Homo sapiens: one gene and its partner. The protein of the gene in region 2 interacts with the protein of the main gene of each other region in a pairwise test. Each region holds a gene or a part of one and is shown on either strand. Other genes may lie near its edges.

Region 1 (3,825 bases), on a different chromosome or scaffold from region 2:
AATATTATTATTAATAAGCAAGTTTTTAATATCAGAAACTTACTAATATTTTTAGCTTAAAAGTAAGTTGGATTTTTTTCCTCAGTGCAATAAAGATTCTTGTTTTTTAAAGCTTAATTTACCCTGTAATATGGGAGCATTACAAGGCCATGACTAAAATAGACTGTTTACAAATACCACAGATGGTTTAAAAGCATCAAAAATTAGTCCACTTTGGGAAATTACATCATAAGAAAATAAGTTTAAACATACAAAAAGTTTTTGCACAAACATATTTACAGAAATGTTTCAGCAGTGAAAAACTGGCTGTTACTTAAATGTCTAACTGTATGGGAGTAGTTACACAGACTATAGTATATCCTCAAAATATAGTGGTAACTACTTATTAAATATTCACAAAATGAATATATTAATAAACATGTTTTAATAAATATATTTCATATATTTGAGTTTGTTGTAATTAATACCTACAAATGAGTGCTCATACTTCTGAAGACTTGTTTTTATCTTTCTTTAGGAAGTTCAAACTGATGGCAACAGTCAGTTTGCATCACAAGGTAAAACAGTTTCTGCAACCTGTACTGATGTTCTACGGAATTCATTTAATACCAGTCCTGGAGTTCCATGTAGCCTGCCCAAAACTGACATATCAGCTATTCCAACATTGCAGCAACTGGGCCTTGTTAATGGAATTCTGCCACAACAAGGAATTCATAAGGAAACAGACCTACTAAAATGTATTCAAACATATTTGTCTCTTTTTCGATCTCATGGAAAAGAAACGCATCTGGACAGTCAGACACACCGAAGCCCTACTCAGTCACAACCAGCTTTCTTGGCCACTAATGAAGAAAAATGTGCCAGAGAGCAAATTAGAGAGGCCACAAGTGAAAGAAAGGATTTAAACATACATGTGCGAGATACAAAAACAGTGAAGGATGTACAGAAGGCAAAAAATGTGAACAAGACAGCTGAAAAAGTTAGAATTATAAAATATTTGTTGGGAGAGCTCAAGGCCCTGGTAGCAGAACAAGGTAGATGGGACTTATAACTTTCTGTAGTATGGTGTTATACTAAATAGCAATGTCATGTTATTTAGCTATCATTTAAATGGAGTTTGTGGTATTTTCCATAGAACTGTGTTTTGAGCTAATAAGAAAATGAGTTCTACTTATTGTATTATTTTTTAAGTTTTGATCCCTTCTTTCCTGTGGATTTAAAATGCGTTTGAGAATGTCAAACATTCAGTCTTTTGCTTGCAAGTGTGTATTTATTCTGCTTGATAATAGACCTTGAAAAGAGTCAACCAAAGAGAATTTGGACAGATAAAAATTTTAATTAGAGAATGCCTATAAATGATTAACTCCCTGAGTAGACTGATTATTCTTCCTGTTTTAAAAAGATGCAGAGAATTCTTTCCTGTCACTTCTTTAATAGCCAACTGTTAGATTGTTTAACAAATCTCACTTTGAGAAGTAACGCATACCTTCTTATGCCCTTTTCAGTGTATTTTTAGGACTTTTTTTCTTAAATCAAGGTGTTTCTGAGCCAGATTCTATTCATTTGTTTCCATTCTGTATATGTATTCTATAGTAATGGCTTTTGCTTGAAATGAGTTACAGTTTTGTCATCTTGGAAACACAGTAATTGATTTTGGAAGCATTGATTGAATACCTAACGTTTGCAGACCAAAAAAAAAAAAAATCTTAAAATGCTATATAAATGTAGCACCATTAGACCAAAGATTTAGTATATTAAAATTGCTCTGTTTTCAGACCTTCAACTTATTACCATTTTCACAGTCAGATACATAATCATGGTAATAATAATAATACCATTAGCTGTCATTTATTGAACACTTACCATGTGTCCAGCACAGTGCTAAGTGTTTTATATGCATTATCTCATTTAATCCTCCCAGCAGCCCTATGTGGTACTGTTACCACTCCCATTTTACTGATGAGGAAACTGAGACTCCGTCTCAAAATAAATAAATAAATAAAGATTGGTAGAAGACTGCTTGATCATTGAACACAGTTGTTTACTGTGTACATATACTTTTCATGAGGATGTTAAAATATCTGTGAAACTGAATACATTTTTGTAACTTAGAATACACTTTCAACTTCTAGGTTATCAGATGATTAATAAATAATTTTAAGTACTTTCAGCCCGTAGTAAATATGAATGGGAATGAGGGGACAAAGATAAAAGGCAAAAGAATTAATATCTACCTTCTATGCCTGTGTCTGTTTGCAATCTCCAAAAACATCTACTGTCCACAATTATTAACAAACTTTTGATGTCACATCAAATGAGATGTGGCTGCTTGTGTTCAATCTACTTTAGAAAATTAAGTAATGAAACTATCTTAGCAGACCCTCACTCAATATTTTGCCATATTAACCCCCTAAAGTAAATTGTTTGCTTATGCCAGGATCAAAGGTTGTATTATAAATGTTAATACTATAACCAGTTATAGGAAACCCTATAGCAATCATAGGAGTCCACTGTGGTCCTTTGTAACTATGGACTAAGAGTTTTGTGTAAGCCACATTCCTACTTGACTCTTGAACTGAAAAAAAAAAAATCACTTATGTAATAATCCTGTGATTTAAGATTAATCTTTAGTTTACTGAACTTAATTTCTTTAGAATTCTGAGGAAACAAATACCAGCAGCATGAAAGAGAAAAATGGAACCTGTATAATAAATTTATAAATAATTGAGTTGAATTTATAACAAGAATGTACATATCTATAAAGATTTTCTTTTTTAGTAATACATACTAATAATCTTGTCCAAAAATATAATATTGATTTTACTCATTTCTGTTGCCTTCTATAGAGGATTCAGAAATTCAGAGGTTGATTACAGAAATGGAGGCATGTATATCTGTACTTCCAACAGTAAGTGGAAACACAGATATTCAAGTTGAGATAGCACTGGCCATGCAACCATTAAGAAGTGAGAATGCTCAGTTACGAAGGTAAGAATTGCTCTTTGAATATTTTTGTCTGTATGCAAAGATGTCTCCTGGCCAGAACAAAGGTGCAAATGACATACCTAGGACTTCATAAGTAAAATTTATTTGCTGTCTTACTGTATTTCTACTTTTCTTCCTCATTTTTCAGAGATTTCCAGCATTCTCTAACTCTTCCTTCTGCCCACTTGTATGTATTTTCTCCCACTTATTTTACCCCTGTTGTCACTTGGTAGTGTGTAGGCAGAAAAATGAAGTACCTCTGTATATTTATCAGACTAGTCTAAGTTATGCTGCAGAAACGAACTTCTAAATCTCATTTGCATAGCACAGCAAGTTTCTTTCTCCCTCATGCCAAGACTAACATGGATCATTGGTGGCTCTTTCATCATGTGACTCAGGATCCAGACTGCCTCCATTTTATGAAGCCACTGTCTCAGTATGTGTTGTCTAGGAAAAAGAGAATGTGGATGTGGTAATGGGGGAGTCTTACATGGCTCAACCCAGAAGTGATCGTTTCGCTACCACTTATATTTTATAGGCTGAAACAAGGCACATGGCCCTGCCTAATAGAAAGGTCTGGGACATTATGTTAAAAGCAAACTGTTTTTCTTCTGCTCTCACACCACAGCAATCGACACAGAACACTTATATGACCAAATGTGTAGGGATTTCTCCCCACCAGCAAGCAAACAATCAGTTCTGCAACAGACACCAGTTGGGTGTCCTCCAGTTCAATTCCAACACTATCTACCTGGAAATGGTATCAGATCCCACAGGTTGAGAGCTCAGTTCCACAAGACTGAGCTCTACTTCCAATGCCAATCACAAGCCCCAGGTTAT
Region 2 (3,825 bases):
CATGAGCCACCGCGCTGGGCCCAAGTCTTGGTTTCTTTTAGCAGCACTCAGAGAAACCTTTATCCCTGATGGCTTTTTAGACCATGAGCCACCACGCCCGGCCCATATTTTGGAGTTTTTTATAAAATCACTTGAAGAATAGTTTTCTGCTGCTTTCAAAAATGATCAAAACCCGTGGATGGTTTTGAGTGAATCATACATTTTAATACAAATATTGGATGTGGTAAATTTATTATTCTATTATGTTGAATGTGGTCAAATATAATTAACCCCCAAGTGGCCAGGGTTGCTTTTCAAAGCAGAGTGTGACTTTGACAATTCAGAAGATACAGCGGCACCTTTCAGATGCCACTGAGAAAACATTTCTCAACCCCCAGCATGCAGAAATCATCTGTGTTGTGGCCCTTTCTTACTGTTTGGGTCCAGATACAAAAGGTCTCCCCATAAGGCCTGTAAGTAGAAGCACCCGTACTTCCGCCTCAGAGGATGGGACCCAGGGGCCACGTCTCTTTAACTGGGGCAGCCAGCCCAGCCGAGCCCTCCTCTGGGGCCTCCGGGCTCCACAGCAGCGTGTTCTCACCAGCACAGGATGCCCCACCCATGGCCACCATCCAGGGTGCACATCAGGCCCCTAGCAGGAGCCGGGCCAGAGAAAACAACGCAGCATCCAAGGAGGTCCATTTCCCAACTGGCAGGGCCTGGGAGAGCGGGAGGAAAGGAAGGAAGGGAGCCCTGAGGAGCCACAGCCTTGGCTGCTCAGGGTTAATCATCATAATCCTTCAGTCTTTTCCACTCCCCTTGTCTGAGCCACTGACAGCCCTGTGGTGCATGTGCGTGTCTACTATTTTTTATTCATTTATTTATTTTCTTACAAGACACAGTCTTTCACTGTCACCCTGGCTGCAGTGCAGTGGTGCAATCGTAGCTGACTGTAGTCTCAAACTCCTGGGCTCAAGCGATTCTCCCGCCTCAGCTTTCCAAATACCTGAGACTACAAGTATATACCACCAATCCTGGCTAATTTTTTTTTAATTTTTATTTTATTTATTTATTTATTTATTTATTTATTTATTTTTGTAGAGACAGAGTCTCACTATGTTGCCCAGAGTGACCTCAAACTTCTGGCTTCAAGCGATCCTCTTGCCTCAGCCTCCTAAAGCTCTGGGATTACAGGTGTGAACCACCGAGCCCAGCTCGTCTAGCTAATTCTTGAGGCCTCTCTGCAGCCTCCAAAAGACAGAAGAATTAAGGATGCGCTACACGGGGGAGTCAGGGCCTCAGGCCTACCCTACCCCATTTTATGTAAGAGGCAGCAGAGGCTCAGGGAGCAGAAGAAACTTTCTCACAATCCCACAATCATTAGTGGCTGAACCAGGCTGAGAAAAGGGGTCTCCAGCATGTTTTCTACCATGATGCGTTCAAGTCAGCGCTGTGGTGAGGATGCTGGCAGTACAATGTCAGGCCCTGCTCCAAGCTTGCTCTCTCAGATGCACTCTGTGGAGGCCCCGATGAGCTCACGGACAGTTGCTCCAGGGTGCACAAAGCACAGTTTTGTCCAGATGTGAAGGATTAGTGCTGAGCCATGTTGGGAGCGACCTCAGCCCAGCCTTTTCCCTGGAGGGGTTTTGGAGCCAAGTTAGACCTCATCACAGACACGTAGAGAACAGGGTGGTTTAGGCCAGTGGAGGGGAGCAGGCTCTGGTTGTTCTGACTTCCAAAGCAGCCAGACTCCCATTTGGCTGGCAGGGTCACACTGCATCCCCCTGGCCTGAGCCTTACACGGGAGAGTGGCTAGGGTCTGGGAGAGGGCAGGTGAGCCTCAGAGAAAAGGCTTGGCCAAAGGCCTCTGGACAGAGCCAGCAGGGGGGTATGTGTATCCACAGACTCATGACAACAGGCCCTCCCCTAGGACGGCCACTCTGTGGGTGACAACAGAGGCCCCCTCAGAGCTTTTCCTCTCCAAGCTGAGCAGCCCAGTTTCAGCTGAGAGAATTGAGTTAAAATTTGGAGTCCCAGACTGGGTGCGGTTGTTCACTCCTATAATCCCAGCACTTTGGGAGGCCGAGACAGGCGGATCACTTAAGCCCAGGGGTTTGAGCTTAGCCTGGGCAACGTAGTGAAATCCTATCTCTACAAAAAATACAAAACGTAGCCAGGCATGGTAGTGTGTGCCTGTAGTCCCAGCTACTCTGGAGGCTGAGGTGGGAGAATTGCTTGAACCCGGGAAGAAGAGGTTGCAGTGAGCCATGATTGTGCCACTGCACTTCAGCCTGGGTGACAGAGTGAGACCCTGTCTAAAAAAAAAAAAAAAAAAGAGGAGTCCCTTCCCATAGCCTCCTCTAGACCTGCTCCTGCCTCTCAAGGGCCTTCTCAGGATGTGGGGCCAGGATGGAGCATAGCCCCCAGGGGCCTCTCTCTCTCTGAATATTTTACATGAATGCCTGCAGCCCACAATGGCTGCTGCTTTCTGCTGACAACCTCGTCAGACAGCCAGCTTTTGTTATGGAACATTTCAAATCGTGCACACAACAGTAGACAGAATCGCTGAATGCACCCCCATTTGCTCATCACCCAGCTTCAACAATCAGCAACTCTCAGCCCATCCTGTTTGCTCTAAACATCCACGCATGCCTCTCCACCATCCCCACTGAGGCCTGGATTATTTACTTTGGAAGTAAATCCAAGACAGCACAGCCTTTCATCTGTAAATATTTCAGTATAGGTCTTTAAAATACTTGCATTAAAAAAATAACCAAAGGGCCATTATAATGTCCTCCTCCCTCCCCAGATTCAGCAATAACACCATTATCTTTTGAAGAGTATTTTCTAAGTTCAGTGGAGGGAAATAATGAAAAGGATAATTTGGAAAACAGATTGTTCTCCACAAAAGATGCTCAGAGTGGAAGGACATTTTGTCTCTGGTCCTGTTCTCATCTCTGAGTGGAAGTGCTGAGAGCTAGATAGAGTTGGAATCAGAAAATCACAGGGCAGGGGGTCCCCACCTTGCTGAGATGAGAACAGGAGGTCAGGGTGCCTGAGGTCCAGGCATTTGCAGATGGTGTGACCTTGGGGAAATCACTCAGCCTCTCAGAGTTACACATCCATCATCAGCTCTGTCCTACCTCAAGACCTGCCCCACTTCTAGACAACTGCAGATGGCCCCTTGGCCAACCCATCCAATACCAAGGCCTTACAGCTACAAGCATTGCACGTAGAGAGATCAAGTTCCATAACTCCCCCTATTGAGCTTTGGATGCCCGCATCCATGGCCACAGCCTTAATATTGTCACTCTCTGAAGCTGCTCGACCTCTAAAAGTTAAATTGCAATATTCCTTTTTTTTTTTTTTTTTTGAGACGGAGTCTAGCTCTGTCACCCAGGCTGGAGTGCAGTGGCGCGATCTCCACTCACTGCAAGCTCTGCCTCCCGGGTTCACGCCATTCTCCTGCCTCAGCCTCCCTAGTAGCTGGGACTACAGGTGCCCACCGCCACGCCCGGCTAATTTTTTTGTATTTTTAGTAGAGACGGGGTTTCACCGTGTTAGCCAGGATGGTCTCGATCTCCTGACCTCATGATCTGCCCGCCTCGGCCTCCCAAAGTGCTGGGATTACAGGCGTGAGCCACCGCGCCTGGCTAAAATTGCAACATTCTTTACCTCTTGTTCCTCCTGTGATTCCTAAGACCTCCAGTCTCTTCAGCCCCCATTTCTCCCAATTCATTGGCCCTCTTCTTGGCCTCATTTCCTTCCTCATCCCAGCTGGATTCCAGGCCTCCTCTCCTAAACCTCTGGCCAAATCTCAGTTCCTTGGCCCCTTGCCTCCACCAC

The links.
Region 1: the proteins of PLAC9 (region 2) and CCDC14 interact in a two-hybrid assay, tested with the Homo sapiens proteins (one large-scale study listed by BioGRID and IntAct).

What each region holds. Positions count from the first base shown.
Region 1 is NC_000003.12:123,944,012-123,947,836, reverse strand, and holds part of CCDC14 (coiled-coil domain-containing protein 14), read left to right. Parts: intron 1-517; coding exon 518-1,034; intron 1,035-2,846; coding exon 2,847-2,988; intron 2,989-3,825. UniProt on the Homo sapiens protein: Negatively regulates centriole duplication. Negatively regulates CEP63 and CDK2 centrosomal localization.
Region 2 is NC_000010.11:80,135,618-80,139,442, forward strand, and holds part of PLAC9 (placenta-specific protein 9 isoform 1 precursor), read left to right. Parts: intron 1-3,825.